Homo sapiens: one gene and its partner. The protein of the gene in region 1 interacts with the protein of each later gene in a pairwise test. Each region holds a gene or a part of one and is shown on either strand. Other genes may lie near its edges. The genes, in order: FAM200A and RGL3.

Evidence for each region.
Region 2: the proteins of FAM200A (region 1) and RGL3 interact in binary tests that used the Homo sapiens proteins (3 or more experiments, as listed by UniProt).

What each region holds. Positions count from the first base shown.
Region 1 is NC_000007.14:99,545,699-99,549,318, reverse strand, and holds the end of FAM200A (protein FAM200A), read left to right. Parts: intron 1-812; 5' UTR 813-911; coding exon 912-2,633; 3' UTR 2,634-3,019; downstream 3,020-3,620.
Region 2 is NC_000019.10:11,409,108-11,416,412, forward strand, and holds part of RGL3 (ral guanine nucleotide dissociation stimulator-like 3), read right to left. Parts: intron 7,042-7,305; coding exon 6,830-7,041; intron 1-6,829.

The DNA of each region.
Region 1 (3,620 bases):
AAACAAATGAGGGTGTTTTGTCAATCGCATGTGTTGTGGAAATCTCATTCTCCCTCCAGAATAATTCATGGATCTATGTAACATGAACATGTTTCAATATTCATAATACTGAATAATTATGCAGCTTAATTTCTTATTTTTAAGAAATACAAGTTCTCATTTTTTTCCCTATGCCCCAGTGGATCATCTTGTGTACCCTATGTACCCTACCTGATGGTTTTTTTTGTTTTTTGTTTTTTGTTTTTTTTTTTTGAGACAGCGTCTTGCTCAGTTGCCCAGGCGTGGTGGCACATGGCCTGTAATTCCAGCTACTTGGGAGGCAGAGGCAGGAGAATCACTTTAACCTGGGAAGTGGAGGTTGCAGTGAGCCGAGATCGTGCCCTTGCACTCCAGCCTGGGCAACAAGAGCGAAACTCCATCTCAAAAAAAAAAAAAAAAAAAAGAATGACCAGATCACTTTTTAGAGTTGGCAGTGTAGCAGCATATTTAGGACACTCGCTTCAGACTTGGATTTGAGTGCTGGTTCTATACTTACTGTGGGTTGTTAGACACATTTAATCTTTCTGAACTTTTATTTTTCATCTGTAATATAAGAATAGTAATTATGTGAACCTCATTAGGTTTCCCTGGGTATTAAATGAGTGGTGTATATAGTACACCAAATCTCCCTGACACACAGCCAACATGAATGACAGTTGCTCATCATTTACCATGTCACACCACTAGATTTAGTGAATTGTTTTGTATGAGTTGTTAGCCCAGCAATACCATGTTGCTTTTTAATACTGCTGTTACGTTTTTCTACCCTGCAGGATAGCAAAACCTGATCTCATAAAACCTAGGTCACAAAGGACAGCCCTGCAAAACAGACCCTATTTGGATCAAGTGAGCCAGTTCCTGGAACCTGAATAATGACTCCTGAATCAAGGGATACTACAGATTTGTCTCCAGGGGGTACCCAGGAGATGGAAGGCATCGTGATAGTGAAGGTGGAGGAGGAAGATGAAGAAGACCATTTTCAAAAGGAAAGAAACAAAGTAGAGTCATCGCCACAAGTTCTCAGTCGCTCTACAACTATGAATGAGAGAGCCTTATTGTCATCGTATTTAGTTGCATATAGAGTGGCAAAAGAGAAAATGGCTCACACAGCGGCTGAAAAAATTATCCTTCCAGCATGTATGGACATGGTACGGACAATTTTTGATGACAAATCAGCTGATAAACTAAGAACTATACCTCTTAGTGATAATACAATATCTCGTCGAATCTGTACGATTGCAAAACATTTGGAAGCAATGCTTATTACACGGCTGCAGTCCGGTATAGACTTTGCAATCCAACTCGATGAGAGCACTGATATTGCAAGTTGTCCCACACTCTTGGTTTATGTCAGATATGTGTGGCAAGATGATTTTGTAGAGGATCTCTTATGTTGTTTAAATTTAAATTCACATATAACTGGATTAGATTTATTTACTGAATTAGAAAACTGCCTTCTTGGTCAGTATAAATTAAACTGGAAACATTGTAAAGGAATTTCAAGTGATGGAACAGCAAATATGACCGGAAAACACAGCAGACTTACTGAAAAATTGTTAGAAGCAACCCACAACAATGCTGTTTGGAATCACTGTTTTATTCATCGAGAAGCTTTGGTATCCAAAGAAATTTCACCAAGTCTGATGGATGTATTGAAAAATGCAGTGAAAACTGTTAATTTTATTAAAGGAAGCTCACTGAATAGCCGACTTCTCGAAATATTTTGTTCAGAGATTGGAGTGAACCACACCCACTTATTGTTTCATACAGAAGTTCGTTGGCTTTCTCAAGGAAAAGTATTGAGCAGAGTATATGAACTCAGGAACGAGATTTACATTTTTCTCGTTGAAAAGCAATCTCATTTGGCAAATATTTTTGAAGACGACATTTGGGTAACAAAATTGGCATATTTAAGTGATATTTTTGGCATTCTTAATGAATTAAGCCTGAAAATGCAGGGGAAAAACAATGATATATTTCAGTATCTTGAACATATTCTAGGATTCCAAAAGACGTTATTATTGTGGCAAGCAAGACTTAAAAGTAACCGCCCTAGCTACTATATGTTTCCAACATTATTGCAACACATCGAAGAGAACATTATTAATGAAGACTGCTTAAAAGAAATAAAATTAGAGATATTGTTGCATCTCACTTCTTTGTCTCAAACTTTTAATTATTACTTTCCGGAAGAGAAATTTGAATCATTAAAGGAAAATATTTGGATGAAAGATCCATTTGCTTTTCAAAACCCAGAATCAATAATTGAGTTAAACTTGGAGCCTGAAGAAGAGAATGAATTATTGCAGCTCAGTTCATCATTCACACTAAAGAATTATTATAAGATATTAAGTTTATCAGCATTTTGGATTAAGATTAAAGATGACTTTCCACTGCTAAGTAGGAAGAGTATATTGCTGTTACTACCATTCACAACTACATATTTGTGTGAACTAGGATTTTCAATCTTGACACGGTTAAAAACAAAGAAGAGAAATAGGCTCAATAGTGCACCAGATATGCGGGTAGCATTATCTTCATGTGTTCCTGACTGGAAGGAACTTATGAACAGACAAGCACACCCATCACATTAAATACAAACTTTACAAAATTCTGTGTATAGCCAGGTGTGGTGGCTTACGCCTGTAATCCCAGCAGTGGGAGACCGAGGTGGGCAGATCACTTGAGTTCAAGACCAGCCTGGCCAACATGGTGAAACCCCATCTCTACTAAAAATAGAAACCTTAGCCAGGCGTGGTGGCACATGCCTGCAGTCCCAGTTACTTGGGTGCCTGAGGCAGGAGAATCTCTTAAACCAGGAAGGCAGAGATTGCAGTGAGCTGAGATAATCCCACTGCATTCCAGCCTGGGCAACAGCGTGAGACTTCATCTCAAAAAAAAAAAATTGTATTTGTACTTTTAAAGGGATTTTGCAGTATGTTGTAGTTAAACGTTAATAAAATTATATTTGTAATTAGGATTTTATTTTTCTACATAGTATGTTTCATGAAACTCATTTCAGTTACATGAATGTGTGTATGTGTACAAGGTTATTATATAAAATATATGTCCTGTGAATTATTGTCAAGAATTTTGAAAACTAAGAGGCCAGCACAGTGGCTCACACCTGTAATCCCAGCACTTCGGGAGGCCAAGGTGGGTGGATTGCTTGTGCCCAGGAGTTTTGAGACCAGCCTGGGCAACACATTGAAATCCCGTCTCTACAAAAAATACAAAAATTTGGCCAGGCTTGGTGGTGTGCACCTGTAGTACCAGCTACTTGGGAGGCTGAGGTGGGAGGATCACTTGAGCCCAGTAGGTCGAGGCTACAGTGAGCTGTGATCGTGCAACTGCACTCTAGTCTGAGCAACAGAGCAAGACCCTGTCTTGAAAAAAAAATTTTTTTTAAATACTGCTTTTTTTTTTTTTTTTTTTTTTGAAGACAGAGTTTCACTCTTACTGCCCAAGCTGGAGTGCAGCGGCACAATCTTGGTTCACTGCAACCTCCGCCTCTGGGGTTCAAGCAATTCTTCTGCCTCAGCCTCCCAAGTAGCTGGGATTACAGGCACGTGCCACCATGC
Region 2 (7,305 bases), on another chromosome or scaffold:
AGGTTGCAGTGAGCCAGGTCCACGCCACGGCACTCTAGCCTGGGTGACAGAGACTTTGTCTCAAAAAAAAAAAAAAAAGAAAAGAAAAGAAGGCCGGGGGCAGTGGCTCACGCCTGTAATCCCAGCACTTTGGGAGGCCAAGGCGGGTAGATCACGAGGTCAGGAGATCGAGACCATCCTGGCTAACATGGTGAAACCCCGTCTCTACTAAAAAATAGAAAAAATTAGCCAGGCGTGGTGGCGGGCGCCTGTAGTCCCAGCTACCCAGGAGGCTGAGGCAGGAGAATGGCGTGAACCGGCGAGGCGGAGCTTGCAGTAAGCCGAGATCATGCCACTGCACTCCAGCCTGGGCGACAGAGCGAGACTCCATCTCAAAAAACAAAACAAAACAAAACAAACAAACAAACAAAAACAAAAAGAAAAGAAAAACATGTTTGCAATAATATGCACCTAGAACCTGACTATTTTGTTCATAAACACAAATTTTTTTGGCTCCAAGAATGCAAGGACCACGAAAGTCTGGGCTTTGTTTTGTTTGCAAATTGCAAATGTTGTTCACAAGTTTGGAAAATGATGTCCCCAGAACCTATGTTGCTGTCTTTGCCTCACCAGTGCCCTCCTGTGCGTTCGTTGGTGCTTGTTGCTGTCAGTACAACAGCACCGTGACACTCTACTGTGACGCTAGGACAGGCAAAGACACGGGACAACCTCATCATGTGTCCTAGTGGGGCATACCCAAGCATTACCCATTGAAAACATGGTTTATTGCTGTGTAAGTTACTCTCACTTTCCTTCTCCTTTGTACTAGTTATGGCATCATACTATTATTTTATTTTATTTTTTTATTTTGTGATGGAGTCTTGCTCTGTCGCCCAGGCTGGAGTGCAGTGGCTCGATCTCGGCTCACTGCAACCTCTGCCTCCAGGGTTCAAGCAATTCTCCTGCCTCAGCCTCCTGAGCAACTGGGACTACAGGAGGTGCCACTATGCCCAGCCAGCTAATTTAAATATATATATATTTTTTTATTATTTATTTATTTTTTATTTTATTTTATTTTATTTTTTATTTTTTTTAGTAGAGATGGGGTTTCACCATGTTGGCCGGACTGGTCTCGAACTCCTGACCTCAGGTGATCCTCCTGCCTCGGCTTCCCAACGTGCTGGGATTACAGGCATGAGCCATAGCACCCTGCCCCAATACTATTATTTTAAAATAATCTTTGTAAATCTGTGTAATTACCTCTTTCATCTTGAATTAGGACAGGTGGCATTGCAAAATATTAGTTTTTAGAAGTGGGTACTGGGCTGGGCACACCTATAGTCCCAGCACTTTTGGAGGTTGAGGTAGGAGGATTGCTTGAGACCAGGAGTTTGAGACCAGCCTGGGCGGCGTAGTGAGACCCCATGTCTACATAAAAAAATTTTTAAAGTTGCGCATCCTGATGCACACCTGCTGTCCCACCTACTCAAGAGGCTTAGGAGGGAGGATCTCTTGAGCCCAGGAGGTCAAGGCTGCAGTGAGCTGTGATCATGCCATAGCACTCCAGCCTGGGTGACAGAGCAAGAAACTGTCTCTCCTCCCCCCACCCCAAAAAAAAGTGGGCCCTGGAAAAAAAAATGCCCTACATCTAATCAAACCTTTAAATCTTACAGCAATTATGGGGATAGAGAAACATGCTGCATGAAACCATGAGGTAAGTCGAAAAGAATGTGAGACATACCTCAGGAAAAATGACCCATTTTTTTTGCCCTCTAATGGCTTCAAACAAGAGGCAAGGGGGATCTGTTACAGAATAAAAGAGACTTAGGAACAAACGACCGGTAGGGCGTGGTGACTCATGTCTGTAATCCCGACACTTCGGGAGGCCGATGTGGGCAGATCACTAAAGGTTAGGAGTTCAAGACCAGCCTGGCCAACATGGTGAAACCCCCTCACTACTAAAAATACAAAAATTAGCTGGGCGTGTTGGTGGGCACCTGTAAACTCAGCTACTCAGGAGGCTGAGCCAGGAGAATCGCTTGAACCCAGGAGGCGGAGGTTGCAGTGAGCCAAGATCACGCCACTACCCTCCAGCCTGGACAACAGAGTGAGACTCCATCTCAAAAAAAAAAAAAAAAAAAAAAAGAGAAGCAAACAACCAAATACCTTGAGTAGATCTTTGGATTTCAATTTGAAGAAACAACTATTCCTCCTTCCCCCAGCTCTATCGCCTGGAGTGCAGGGGCATGCTCACAGCTCACGGCAGCTTTGATTTCCCGGAGTCAAGAGATCCTCCCATCTCAGCATCCTAAGTAGCTGGGACTATAGGCATGTGCCACAACACCTGGCCAGAAACAACTGTCAAAAGAAAATTTAGGGCTGGGTGCCATGGTGGGCACCTGTGGTCCCAGCTACTCAGGAGGCTGAGGTGGGAGGGTCAGGAGTTCAAGCCCAGCCCAGGCAAAATAGGAAAACCCAGTGTCCAAAAAAAGGTTCAGGCACAAACAGGGGATTTGAATATTTGAATATAGACTGGGTATTTTTTCTGTTTTTGAGGCAGGGTCTCGCTCTGTCACCTAGGCTGGAGTACAGTGGCATAATCACGGCTCACTGCAGCCTTGACCATCCCAGGCTAAAATGATCCTCTTGCCTCAGCCTCCCAAGCAGCTGGGACTATAGGCAGTCACCACCATGCCCAGCTAATTATTTGTAGACACAAAGTTTCAACATGTTGCCCAGGCTAGTCTCAATCTCCTGGGCTCAAGCCATCCACCTGCCTTGGCCTCCCAAAATGCTGGGATCGCCAGCAGGAGCCTCTGCATCTGGCCTGGATTGGATTTTTTTTATATCAAATATTTCTGATTTTTTTTTAAGTATGAACATGAAGGTTATTAAAAAATAAAAATAAAAGGGCCGGGCGCCATGGCTCACGCCTGTAATACCAACACTTTGGGAGGCCAAGGTGGGCGGATCACCTGAGGTCAGGAGTTCGAGACCAGCCTGACAAACATGGAGAAACCCCCCTCTCTACTAAAAATAGAAAATTAGCCGGGTGTGGTGGTGCACGCCTGTAATCCCAGCTACTCGGGAGGCTGAGGCAGGAGAATCACTTGAACCCAGGAGGCAGAGGTTGAGGTGAGCTGAGATCCTGCCATTGCACTCCAGCCTGGGCAACAAGAGCGAAACTCCGTCTCAAAAAAAAAAAAAAAAAAAGTAAGCCTGTTGTCAGACATGTGTACCCAAAACATTTATGTATGAATTGACATAAGCCCGGGATTTGTTTTAAAATCATCCTGAAAATATTTTTTTGTGAAATTGATCATCGTTGATGATAGGTGATGGATGTCTGAATGTTCTTCATACTATTCTCTCTACTTTTGTATATGTCTGAAATTTTCCATAGCAAAAAGTGAACCCAAAATAAAGTTGTTAAAATAAAATAGATGAGCATGGTGGTCATCTACTTTCTTCTAAACTACATGGTGCAAGTGTAGTCTTAGCTACTCAGGAGGCTGAGGTAGGAGGCTCACTTGAGCCCAGGAGTTCGAGTCCAGCCTGGGCAACAGAGCAAGACCCTGTATCTAAAAATAAAATTCATAGTCGGGTGCGGTGGCTCACGCCTGTAATCCCAGCACTTTGGGAGACCGAGGCAAGCGGATCACGAGATCAGGAGATCGAGACCATCTTGGCTAGCACGGTGAAACCCCGTCTCTACTAAAACTACAAAAAATTAGCTGGGCCTGGTGGCGGGCGCCTGTAGTACCAGCTACTCAGGAGGCTGAGGCAGGAGAATCACTTGAACCCAGGAGGTGGAGGTTGCAGTAAGCCAAGATCGCGCCATTGCACTCCAGCCTAGGCGACAGAGCGAGACTCTGTCTCAAAATAAAATAAAAGTAAAAATAAATAAAATAAAATAAAATGAAATAAAGTGTGTCCCAGGGCCTAGCACATAGAAGGTCTTAAACAAATGTTAATTTTCTCCTCTGACCTCAAAGAAACTAGGGCAGCACTTTCCATATAATTCTCTGCAATGGTGGAAAAATTATCTATCTGCTATGTCCAGTGTGGTGGCTGAGCACTCAAAATGTGGGTAGTGGGATTGAAGACCTGAATTTTTGCCTTTGCTTGACTGGATTTTGAAAAAGAAAAAAAAAAAAAAAAAAAGCGGGCCAGGCATGGTAGCTCACGCCTGTAATCCCAGCACTTTGGGAGACCGAGGTGGGTGGATCACCTGAGGTCAGGAGTTCAAGACCAGACTGACCAACATAGTGAAACGCTGTCTCTAATAAAAATACAAAATTAGCTGGGTGTGGTGGCAGGTGCCTATAATCCCAGCTACTTGGGAGGCTAAGGCAGGAGAATCTTTTGAACCTGGGAGGAGGAGGTTGCAGTGTGCCGAGATGGCGCCACTGCACTCCAGCCTGGGTGACAGAGCGAGGCTCCGTCTCAAAAAAAAAAAAAAAAAAAAAAGGGCAGGGTCAGGCACAGTAGCTCACACTTACAATCCCAGCACTCTGAGAGGTTGATGCTGGAGGATTGCTTAAGCCCAGGAGTTCGAGACCAGCCTGGGCAACATGGCAAGACCCCATCTCTAAAAAGAAAAGACCTGAATTTTATTTAATTTTAATTAATTAATTAATTATTATTATAATTTTGTTTTTTGGTTTTTTTTTTTTAGGCAGAGTCTCGCTCTGTCACCCAGGCTGGAGTTCAGTGGCTTGATCTCAGCTCACTGCAAGCTCCGCCTCCCAGGTTCGCGCCATTCTCCTGCCTCAGCCTCCCGAGTAGCTGGGACTACAGGCGCTCGCCACCACGCCCGGCTAATATTTTTTTGTATTTTTAGTAGAGACGGGGTTTCACCATGTTAGCCAGGATGGTCTCGATCTCCGAACCTTGGGATCCGCCCCCGTCGGCCTCCCAAAGTGCTGGGATTATAGGCATGAGCCGCCGCGCCCAGCCAATTTTAATTAATTTAAATAGCGACAGGGGCTAGTGGATACCACAGTGAACTATGGAGCTCTAATGACTTGGAATCAGCTGGAGAAATCATATATATATATATATATATATATATATATATATATATATATACACCTATATATATATACCTTTATATATATATATACCTTTATATATATATACCTTTATATATATATATACCTTTATATATATACCTTTATATATATATACCTTTATATATATATACCTTCATATATATACATATATATATATACCTTCATATATATATATATACCTTTATATATATATACCTTTATATATACCTTTATATATATATATACCTTTATATATATACCTTTATATATATATACCTTTATATATATATACCTTCATATATATACATATATATATATACCTTCATATATATATATATATATACACCTTCATATATATATATATATATATATATATATATATATATATACCTTTATATATATATAAATAACTGAGACTTTGTCACCAGGGATAGAGAAGTGGCTGCTACTTTGTAAATTGGACAGGAAGGTGGCCACTATAATCTGGAGATTAAGCGATGGGGATTAGGGATAGAGATGCTTTTGTGATGTGGATCAGATCAAATACAGATGGGTGAAAGATGATACTTCCTAAGCAGGATGCAATTATTCAGCAAACTAATCTGTGTTGTTCCTGCCCCTGGGGACAGAGCTGGGAGCAAGAACAACAGGTCCTCCTCTCATGCACTCACAGCCTATGAGATGAGCAAAAGCCAATAATCAAGTAAGGAGGCTACGCATGCACAATGGCTTATGGCTGTAATCCCAGCATTTTGGGAGGCCAAGGCAGGCAGATCACTTGAGTTCAGGAGTTTGAGACCAGCCTGGGCAACATGGCACAACCTCACCTTTACAAAAAAATTAGCCGGGCGTGGTGACATGCGCCTGTGGTCCCAGCTACTCAGGAGGCTGAGACAGGAGAATGGCTTGAGCCCAGGAGGTGGAGGTTGCAGTGAGCCAAGATTGTGCCACTGCACTCCAGCCTGGGTAACAGTGCGAGACTCTGTCTAAAAAAAAAAATAGATAAAAAAATAAAATTAAATTAAATTAAATTTAAAAAGAAATTCAAAAATAAGAAAAATTTTACAGGCTAGGTATAGTGGCTCGCGCCTGTAATGCCAGCAGTTTTGGAGACCCAGGCGGGAGGATCACCTGAGTCCAGGATGTTGAGCCTGCACTGAGCCATGATGGAGACACTGCACTCCAGCCTGAGCAACGGAGCAAGACCCTGACTCAAAAAAAAGAAAATAAAGACAAGTATCAAGGCAATGGTTTGTAGCTAGAAACACAGAGCATCCTGACCCAACGGCACCAAGGAGGGAAAAGTATTAGACACATGCTAATACTTCAGACAAAGAATTTGTTTTTTTTTTTAGACGGAGTTTCGCTCTGGTTGTCCAGGCGAGAGTGCAATGGCACGATCTCGACTCACCGCAACCTCCGCCTCCCGGGTTCAAACGATTCTCCTGCCTCAGCCTCCCGAATAGCTGGGATTATAGACATGCCCCACCACGCCCGGCTAATTTTGTATTTTTAGTAGGGATGGGGTTTCTCCATGTTTGTCAGACTGGTCTCAAACTCCTGACCTCAGGTGATACACCATCCTTGGCCTCCCAAACTGCTGGGATACAGGCGTGAGCCACCACGCCCGGCTGACAAAGAATTATTATCCCCATTGTAAAGATGAAGAAATTGAGGCTTAGAGTTTAAAATCTTGCTTAAGTTTTGTAGCTCTGAGAGGGGAGAGAAAGCCTGTGTGGGAAGAAGCAGACAGGAAAGGCCTTCTCAGAACACGACTGGATCTGAAAACCCCTCACCTGTCCACACCTGAGGCGGCTCCTCTTCCTGCTCTCGCTCAGCCTCCTCCAAAAAATCTTCCAGAAGCTTCTCTGCTTTTTGAGCCTCAGCACTCCCTGGGGCCGCCCAGCCCAGAAAGGTTCGGACACTGCCCAGGTCCGAATGGGCAGGGTGGTCTCGGAAATCCTGAGGGTGGTCCTGCAGCCAGGAGCCCAGCACTGACACCACAGCCCTGGCCAGAGAGGCAGGGTCTCAGAGCTGGGTCCAGAGTGGGGGACATAGAATATGACTCCTGGTACCTTTTTTTTTTTTTTTTTTTTGAGATAGAGTCTTACTGTGTCACCAAGGCTGCAGTGCAATGGCCTGATCTTGACTCACTGCAACCTCAGCCTCCCGAGTAGCTGGGACTACAGGCATGCGCCACCACACCCAGCTACCTTTTTTTGTTGTTGTTGTATTTTTAGTAGAGACAGGGTTTCGCCATATTGGCCAGGAT